Regions from separate parts of the Homo sapiens genome. Here region 2 is linked to region 1. The links come from fine-mapping of genetic effects on gene expression. Tissue or cell type: tibial artery. Region 1 holds a variant in brackets; the other region holds the start of a gene. All regions are shown on one strand. Distances are between the middles of the regions.

The links. PIP is the estimated chance that this variant, and not a neighbour inherited with it, causes the effect.
Region 2: it holds the start of ASAP1, and the variant in region 1 is fine-mapped to the expression of ASAP1 in tibial artery (GTEx, PIP 0.97).

What each region holds. Positions count from the first base shown.
Region 1 is chr8:130,329,826-130,334,974 of GRCh38, forward strand. All of the region lies in intron 3 of ASAP1 (ArfGAP with SH3 domain, ankyrin repeat and PH domain 1), which reads right to left. Among named protein-coding and RNA genes, the nearest start is that of ASAP1-IT1, 36 kb to the left of the region's middle. RefSeq lists a silencer at 274-323 and an enhancer at 3,525-4,104. The variant C/T (reference allele first, on the strand shown) is at 2,818.
Region 2 is chr8:130,441,691-130,446,839 of GRCh38, forward strand. ASAP1 (ArfGAP with SH3 domain, ankyrin repeat and PH domain 1) reads right to left here and starts at 1,984. Exons shown (of 30, transcript NM_018482.4): 1 at 1,770-1,984. RefSeq lists silencers at 1,539-1,618, 1,669-1,828, 1,839-1,928, 1,969-2,068.

The DNA.
Region 1 (5,149 bases):
CTTGGAGGAAAACCACATGGCTCAGTGAGAAGCCATGTTTATCAATTAACTGGAGCAACACAGTCTTATTTACTCAAATAATTTTCTAGTCAACACATCCAGCAGCCCTGAATCACCATTTCCCTCCTGTCCTGCCCCACAAAGGGAGGGATGTTTGATGTTACAGCTAGTGTCACAGCTTTCAGGGAGAGACAGTTGTAATCTAATTCCTCAATTTGTCAAACAGGACATTTTCATTACAGCTGGACCCAGCTGGAAATGAATCACTCCCACACACGTCCCCAACAAAACATAAAAGGCATTTAACAGAGAAAGACACACATGTACTGTACACAAACCCACAAAGACAGAGAGAGAGATTGCTTCATCAAACCAAACTGAGTAAGCATGAAACCGTACTACCCATCTAATGGGAGTCTCCATTCCACTTTGCATTTTCTCACCCTGGGTCTTTGCTCAAAAGGTGTCCTCTGCCTGAAATGTTCTACCCATCTATTCCTCAGGTCCAGGTCCGAAAGGACCCTGTAAGATTTCTCCAGTTGGAACCTGTCATGACCTCATGTGTGCTCTCAGAGCAATCTGAATTATCACAGCTCTGACCGGTCTATGCTATATTGCAGCTAACCTGGCACCCCACAACCACCACCCCATTCACCTGTGAACACCTTTGGGACAGAAAGCATGTCTAATTCATTCTGTTACCCTTCCCTCAGTCATCTACCAAAAACCAGGCACATAGTAGGTGCTCAAATGGCAGAATCATGTTAAACTGTACTTAACTCATGTGAGGCCTTCATGAGCATTTAAGGTTTATATTGCCAAAGGCAATTTGTCTTACGGGTAAGCTTTACGATGGATCATTGTTTCCTTTCCCAGTTTAAATGTGTGTAGGTATCTCTATGGGGAAAGGGACAGAAGACAGGGTTCTATCATTTATCTTTTGTTGCCTTCTGGAAATTTTGCCTGTTTTTACATATAATCATTCTTAAACCTATAAAAATGCCCCGAGCTGAAAATTTTAGGTGAAGCCATGAAGAATATACTGAACCCAATTCTACGATTCTCTGGGATGCTCCTGAAAGTACAAACAAACCTCCTTCCACTTCTAGCCTTTTTTTCTCAGTAGCAGATGATATGGTGTACCAAAAATGGGCTTTGGCATCAGAAAGACCTTAGCTGTCCATTGGCCAGACCAGCCTTTCCAATGCTCAGTTCCCCCAGCTGCAAAAAGGGAATAAGATTACTTCCCAAGCAGATGGACATAAAGAATAGATAGGATATAAAAAGAGCCTGGAACCTAGCAGGCACACATATTAAATGTCAGCTAATCTTAAGTGTTGTGGGCTCCAAAGTTAAGGAAAGGGGGCATGGCTATTTCGAGTGGAAAGAGCGAGTAGGGCCCTATTACCCCTTAGACCATTCTCTGGAAGGTTAGTTGACATCACAATGTCATCTTGCTCTTAGATCCATCCTTCTGAACCATGATGGAACTGCCAAGCCCAGAGCAAGAATTCCATGGAAGCAGTCTGGAGAGAGAAAGGAACACTGGCTCTGAGCATTCCTTACTAACTGTGTCAACTTGGTCAGTTTACTTCACTTCCCTGGGCATCAGCTGAAGAAAACGGGCCCAGAATGTTAAGTAAAGCAAGTCACACAGTTGCTTAGTCCACAGACTATGGAATCTGGCAGGCATGAAATCCAGCCTTACTTCCTGCCTTCCTTATTATAGTGGAGGAAGTTACTTAATTTTAGAGCCTTTTCTCATTTGTAAAAAAATAGGACGTCCACCCACATCAGGTTATCATGAGAAAAGTATTAGATAAACATGTAAAGAGTTTAGCACAGTACTGTTACCTAGTCAAGAGGTGCCAAGCCCTCAAAATCATGTAGCTAGTATTTTATTAGCAACATTAAAAATACAAGCAAAGCATTTAAAAAATACACCCCAAAATTCACAGACATATCTAGAAACACATACACACACACATGCAAACACACAATGCACATCAAGTGGGGAGAATGATCAGAATCCACAAAAGCTGAAAAATGGGGAAACTGAGGCCCAAACCCAGAGAACCATAGAGCAGATCCCCAAATATTTCTGTGTGAAGTCTCGGCCCAAGGTCTAGGTTTGCTTTCTCAGAACCACTAAATCCAGAGAGAATGATGGAATACACAAAATTACAGGGCTTACACAGAGAAGAGAAGTTATCACTATGGCTACTATTTCAAATCCAAGAGCAAGCACCTCTCTTGGAGGCCTGTTAACTTGGTTTTGGGTCACAGAGTAAACATTTCATGACCAACATCTGAAATTTTCCATTCAACTTTGAAGAAACAGTCTGATTTGATGGCACTTGTGAAGTTTACAGCTTCTGCTCTGCATCTTTCTGGTGCTTTTCAATGAAGATGTTGAGTGCTTGTTATCATTACAGGTCTACACCATATCACCAATGGCAGGGAGTATAATGAAAACTCTGTCTTTTTTCCTGCTGAAAGAGAAAACCTAATTTCACCCAGAAGCCCATCCACACCACCTGCACTTTTTGAATATTCAATCCCACTTCAAGTTAAATAACCATTTTTATGATCATTTCTGTGATTATGTCATTGTACTTTAGTTTACAGTTTCATTATTTGTACACTGTCAAATAAAAAATAATACAAAGAACATCTAATTTTACTTCAACACTTCCAAAAATTTCCTAATCTCCAACCCCAAAGTGGAATTCAACATCAATAGCAATGCTTTTGGAAATATTCCAGAATGCAAAACAACTTTTCGTTTTCTTATTAGAAACTCTGGATTTTTTCCCT[C/T]TTCTGAATGGCTGAAAGTAGAATAAAAAGGCTGCTTCCTTAGTTAATCTCAGCCTGATTTTCTTTCTACTTCTCTTATCACTTTCTTCAAGTAAAAGGATAATCTTTATTAATTTTCCAACCTGGAAGAAGCCATTAATATGTCAATGACTGATTCTAACTTGAAAGCACATGCAGCACAACAGGCACAATTTTCATTTTATTTTTGTAAAAAAAATTTTAGAAAATATTTCTATATAAAAATCTAAGAAATCTATAACAGCTAAAAAAGAAGTTTTTTTTTTTAAAGGGAAAATAATACACTGACAACTTATCTAAGGAAATTCTATTCACATTACAGAAAGAACTAGCAGCAGCAACATTCACAGTGATTCAAGCACAAAGCGGTTCAATCTTTCATATGGAAATTCTGTTTGGAGGCGAAACCGTGTCATGCTCTATTTTGGGTAAGTAGCTCTCAAAACTCAAGGGGGAATTACAATTATATATCTACTCCATACTACCTTATTATCTACTCCTTATTTCCTAAGCACCCCCAACCCTAGTCCAAATCAGTTGGATTTAAAAGGCTATTTTATAAAGAATTATAAACCAACATGTTTTAACTCTAATCATCTTTAGTTGATGGGATTACTTGAGATTTTTCATCTTTATTTCTATAGTAAAAAGGCATGGCTGGCTGGGCGCGGTGGCTCACGCCTGTCATCCCAGCACTTTGGGAGGCCGAGGTGGATGGATCACCTGAGGTCAGGAGTTCGGGACCAGCCTGACCAACATGGTGAAACCCTGTCTCTACTAAAAATATAAAAAAATTAGCCAGGCATGCTGGCACATGCCTGTAATCCCAGCTACTTGGGAGGCTGAGGCTGGAGAGTAGCTTGAACCTAGGAGGCGGAGGTTGTGGTGAGCCAAGATCGTGCCATTGCACTCCAGCCTGGCCAACCAGAGTGAAACTCCGTCTCAAAAACAAAACAAAACAAAACAAAAAACAAACGGCATGGCTGTAACAATTTTTTTAAAGTATGGCAGGGCATATTGCCATCATGAAACAGAAAGGTTCATATACAAGTCACAACACCAGAAGATTAATATTTTCGCCAATCATACAGATAAAATTATCAGACTATTAGATGCATTTATTCATTCAGTAGTATTTCTGGAGGGCCTATTATGTGACAAGCAGCATGCAGAATGGAACACCATGCCTATCCCCCAGAAGCTGAGATTACAGAAGAGACTCACAGCCATCAGGGAACCCCGTGAAGCCTCATGGGTGTTGGGCCACAGTGTGCACAGAGCAGCTGGAGCTGCAAGGACTGGGCTGCCAACTTCTAATGGGGACTGGGGAACAGGGAAAAGCAGTAGTTAGGAAGGGTCTCTTCAGAAGGTGACATCTGAGCTCAGTCCAGAAAGATGAGTAGGTGTTCATCTGGTACAGGAGGAGGCAAGGAGACGTGAAAATGCAAGAGGCTTCCAGTTTGCTTCTGCTCCTTCTGGCAGCAGCAGAAGGCAGAGGACTCTAGGTGCAGCTGTTAAGGAGAGTGGACATTATCCTATAAACCACAAAAAGTTGCTGAGGCACACATATAAAGAGGTACTCTTTGATTTTCAGGTAACAACAACAACAAAAATATCAAGCACATCAAATATGTTCCTTGGGTAACGGAAAAAGAAAAGCACATGATGAAATATTATTACAAAATGCCAGCTCTTCATTCATTTCTATTAAAGTCTTCTACAAACCTCACAGCCTCCCAAAAGTTCTACTTGTGTTTCACATAGATTCAGCTAGAGTTCAGAGACAATATATATGGTCTCTTTTTAACTTTTAAACCACAGGATGAGTAACCAAATTTGAAAAGAACTTTATGCCATGAAACAAATACAGTTATCTTCATATTATTCTACAGTTCTTCACAACCATTCTGATAGCTTAAAGCTTGCTTCTAGCTGTAGCATGTAACAGAATATACTTTTATTTAACAATTCAGAGGGAAAAAAACACAAGATGAATGAAAAGGTCTATTATATTTCAAGTGTGTAGTGATTTCCTGTTTCTTTCACACTTTTGGCAGCCATGTGCCATGTCACAGAGTACTTTTTATACTACAACATCAACAAAAATCTCTTTTCAGACTCTGGAAAAACTGGGCATCTCTCTCAAATACCAACAGCTCTCCATTTAATAATACAAAACAGCAATGTGACTAAAAATCATCATCCCACTAACAAAGTACCTTTGTCATAAATAAACCCTCCCTTTAGATTATCCAAATACATATCAGACCTCCAACCCTCCTTTCAGAATATCAAGCATCCCTCCTTGTCTTCA
Region 2 (5,149 bases), 110 kb after region 1:
GATTTTGAAAATCTGGCTCGCTGTGGCTGGTGAGGACTGGGGAGGTGTAGAGAATTTCAATTTCCCTCACCAAATGGCAAGCTTGCGAAAAGTCCTTTCTCTCCAACATTATCACATACTAAAAATGAAAAACCAGCCATTCAGAGCTCTCATGAGAAAAATAGATGGGCTGCTTAGCTCACAAGAAACAGGAGGGCTGAAAATCAAGTCTAGAGAACATCAGAGGGTACATTATGTGCTAAGATACTGCCCTTTTTTGGACCTGGGAGTTTCTATTTTGCACAAAAGAATGGGATAGGGAAAGTAATTCCCCGTATAATAAGCCACTCATTTTATACTTCAAATCCATTTGGTAGCTGAATCTCCAAATCCACTTAGTGGCGTTAGGTGATTTTTGTTTTTTTTAACTCCCTATCTCAAAATATGCAGTTTGAAATAAGTGCATATCTCAAAAATAGCAGCATTAACAGGACAGAAGAGAAGGCACTAAAGTGGTGAAGGCTGTGACGCAAAGAAGACGTTTCCAAATCTGTTTCATGGCTAACAGATCAAAATCTAACACAGAAGGGGCATGGGACTGAGCCTGAAGAAGTGGAAACTACTCCTGGCCATGTGATCTTGGGCAAGTCAGGTCACCTTTCTGGGCCTTCTCTGAAGGGGGTGAATCAGTTGTTCTCAAAGATCTTTTTCTTTCCAAACTGTTCACTGGGTGTTTCCAGAAGACCCGCATTTTCTTAAAGCTATCTGGCCGCGCTACAATTGCAAAACAGAAAGGCTTTGGGATGAAGGTTGCAATACAGATAACCCTGGCCTAAAAACTGATAAGCTTTTACAATCCCAAAACATTACTCAGCAATCCAGGTCCTGATGTCATCCCAGAATCAATCACGCCAAGATAACCTAACAGAGTAGACAGGGGAAAATGCGAGAGAAAGTTCTTTTGCTTTCCTGACGAGTACAGGTAAAGTTGAGGTCAAGTTAACGATGATGGTCTGCAGTTGACCATCCTTCTCCCTGAGCTACTGGAAAACCACATTATTAAAGGAAACTGCTTTAGAAGTGCCCAAGATGAACCTCTTGGGATGTATCAAACCGCAGAAAACCGGACACCGGCAAGTTTCTTTTTTCTTTGAAACTTCATGTCGCTCTCAGAAAACGCAGCAGGTCCCAAAATGGTACAAGCAGAAAACACAAGCCACTTCACGGTCCGCCCAGGAGCCAACCCCAAGCTCCAAGTAGGACTCCCCCCACCCCCTTCCCTTTCGTTTCTCTTCTTTTGCTTTAGGCAAGTGGCCTGGGGCCTGCCAAGCAGCGCCGGGTCCGGGTAGGGGCCGGGGGCCGCGGGGAACTTTCCTCGGCTGCACCAGAGACAATGCCGGGAGGGCGCCCCATCGGCGGGGTCCGGGCCGCCAAGCACGTCGTCCCGGGCCCTCCCCCGGAGGGGGACGCGAAACCCCCCAGGGCGGGCCCCGTCCCCGGCCCCACTGCAGGGGCCCCCTCTCCCGAGCTGGAGGCGAGGAGACCTCCCCCCCCCACCGGGCGGCCTCGCCCGGCCCCGCAGAGCCTGGCCGCGCGTCCCGCACACGCCCCAGCCCAGGGCCGGCGCCCTCCCCGCGGAGAAGGACACCCCGCTGCGAGAGGAGCCGGGAGCCCGCCCCGCGCCCCGTCCCGGCGCCCTTCTTCGCGCGAGAGACTGGGCAGGGGGCGCCCGCGACTGTGGGCGACTCCGCCCGGCCCCGCCGAGCGCGCCCGAGCGCCCCGCAACTCACCGGGACCTGGCGGGCCGCTGGGCATTATTCCATCGCGGGTTCGGCCGGGCGCTCGCGGCTCTCGGGTGGGAAAGCGAACTGCGACCGGGAAGCGCCGGCTGGGCGGGAGGCGCGGGCCCGGGGCTGCCCAGCGCACAGTGCTCGCCCGCGGCAGCGGCCAGGCCAGGCGAGGCGCGGGAGCCGAGCGCGGCGCAGGAAGGGGCGGGCGACCATGTGCCGAGGGGGAGGAGGCCGCGGCGACGCGAGCGGCTCGCACGATCCCGCTCGGCGGCGGAGGGCGCGGGTTTCAGGAAATCCAAACACTTCGACAGGAAATCGGAATCCTGACTAAGCATTCCCGGCCCCGAGCCGCTCCGCGCCGGGGGCTCCCGCCTCGCTTAACCCTTGGCCCGCCGGCAGCCACGAGGGGGGCGTGGGAGGGGCCCCAGACCTCGGCCGGGGTCGGGCGTCCTTCGCCTTCCGCCCCATGCCCCGGCCGGCCGGCCTCCTCCCCGCCTGAGGTGGAAGGGGTGGGATTTATCCACAGAAAACCCTGGACGCGGAAGGTGCCTTTCTAAGGCCGGGACAGCGGCAAAGGACGTGCCTGTCTTCCATCTGCAGAGGATGGACCTGCACTGTCCTGGCCGTTACCCCTATTTTCAGTAAAGGAATGATTTCACCAGGCTGCCCCCTTTCACCACTTCCTCTCTGCTCTTATAATTTTATTTTTGCCCAGTGCCAAGGGAACAGGACCTTCCCAGTCAGGATAGTATAGGAACAGTATGGAGAGTAATTGTGTGGGCTGCAGGCTCTGTGTCCGGTTGGAATATGGCCTTTTTTCTACTCATGTTACCTTGAGTAACTCGCTCAACTTTCCTGAGCCTCAGTTTCCATTTATGAAATGGATGTTAATTCCACCCTCATAGGTTTGATCTGGAAGCTGAATGTTTAGACAGGGACTGGCACATTGGAAACGCCCAAATAAATGATAGCCATGCTTGTCCTTATTATTACCATTAAAAGACATCAGAGAAAGGAGGATTTTAATTTGTGGGATGTATATTGTGCATATCTATGTCTACTTTCAAAGTCAGAGACAGTAGTCTTTCTTTAGAACTTAATTTCCCTCCTAATCATTGGGTGATTGTTTTTCTTTGCAGCATTTCAGAAACGGCTCTCTGCAGAGGAAATGGTTAGTGGCTGTGGCAGACCCCCTTCTGGTGAAATCCGAAACAGAAAACCTCACAAAATTTGGGATTTTGCTCCTAATCTGAGAGTCTGGGTGTAGTGGGGAGTGGGGGTTGTTAAACAGTCTGGAGCGGATTTACAAAGTTTGGGAAAACCAAAATCAATCTCTGACTGGGCAGAGAGGTCGGGCAGCCAATGAGTGATTCATTGTGGTTTCCCACGGAAATGCCACATTTCGGGGGTGTCTACCTGGAGGATGCAGCTTGGTGGTTTTGCTGTAAGTGTTTCAGATTCCTTTGAAACCCAATCAGACTTTGAAGAGGGAACAACATGCTCATGAGCGAAAACAGAAGCCTGAAATGAACCTGCTGGGAACTGAAAGTTGGGTACCAGCTCGTTTACTCCAAGTAAGGAACAGATACCAGTTTTAGACCCAGCATTGTTCCTTTTCTGCAATTCTCTCTCCGTGGCCAGAAGCAGTAGGACAGCTCTGAGCTGGGCACCAGGAGTCCCAGGGTCCTGCTCCAGGCCCACTGTAGCTGCCGTCCCCTCTGCCTGGAAGAACCCTTGTATGGCTGTTCTTGGCACGCAGCTCACAGCCCAGAAGTCAGCTCCGCAGATAGGTTTTCCCCAACCATGTGATCTGCTTGTCTCTGGCACCTACACCCCACCTCCACCTCTCCCAAACATAGCGCATCCTGTTTGATTGCTTCATAGCCCTTGTCACTGTTTAATGTAGCCTACATGATTGGTTGCTTATTTTTTATCTGCCCCCCACTCTCCCCACTGCATGGGTAAACTGCATTACAGCAGTACCTTTGCCTGTTTCCTTAGAACAGTGCTGGCCCATATGAGACCATCGATAAACACGTGTTGAATAAATGAAAGAAGCAAACAAACTAGAGTTGCAGATGGGACCTCTGCCTGAGGTAGGGTGGTTCACTCGGTCCCGCAGCTCCCTGTGGCTTCCTCTTTGGTGGAGAGATTCAAAAGGGAACGCCCAGTGCGGTGGAAGGAGCACCAGATGGCTCTATTAGTGCTTCTGGAAAACTAAAACTATAAGTAGGCCAGGCGCGGTGGCTCACGCCTGTAATCCCAGCACTTTGGGAGGCCGAGCAGGTAGATCACCTAAGGTCAGGAGTTTGAGACCAGTCTGGCCAACATGGTGAAACCCCGTGTCTACTAAAAATACAAAAAATTGCCGGGCGTGGTGGTGGGCACCTGTAATCCCAGCTTCTCCAGAGGCTGAGGCAGGAGAATCGCTTGAACCCGGGAGGCAGAGGTTGCAGTGAGCTGAGATCATGCCATTGCATCCCAGACAGGGTGACAGAGTGAGACTCCGTCTCAAAAAAAAAAAAAAAAAAAAAAAAAAAAAAAACCTAAGTAATTAAGACTGTCAAATGAGGTAACTATAGTCTCATTGGTATAGTCCCAGTTAATTACTCCCTCCTTTGTGCTTCCTTGGCATTTCTGTTTAAAGAATATATTTGTCATATTGTATACTCACTAGATGACTGTTCTCCTAAATCAGATGGAGGAAAGGAGTCCACATTTGTTGACCACTTGCTCTGAGTGGGTCCCTGAGCAAGGTGAACTTGAATTCATTTTAAGGCATCGGTTAAGTGCCTGTAATGTGCTAAAAAAATCTGGGCCCTACATGTGCAATGATGAAAAAGAACTATTCTTGCTAAGAAAGACAGGAAAGCTCTATCTAGTAAGCAGAGAGATAAGTACTCTTATAGAGTCATGTCCAGGGTATCCAGGGCTATTCAGAACATTGAAGGTGGAGTAGGGTGGAGATAAGTTGGAAAATGCTTCCAAGAAGTGGGTGCTCTTGAACGAACTTTCAAGGAGGAGATGGGACCTATGTAGCTAGATAAGGGGGCACAGGCCTGCCAACCAGAGTAACAAGCGTGAGTGTTAGTGATGCTCGGCTCCATGTCCCCTGGGCCCACCTCTGAGCTCACCGGCAGCTGCAATGAGCTGCCCTCTGTACAGAGAAACTGTCTATCCAAAGCAGGCCCCCTTTCTCCTCTCTACCAGGAGGCTTTCTCAAGGGCTGTGGGATCTTGCCTAGCCTGGAAGTTTCCAACAGCCCTGGGTCAGTCCTTAACCAAACAGTGGATGAATGTGTCAGCCTCCCCTTCCCTAAGGAAGATCAATTCTCAAATGCTCTCAAGGCAGTTCCTCAGAGGAATTCCCCAGTAGGAATG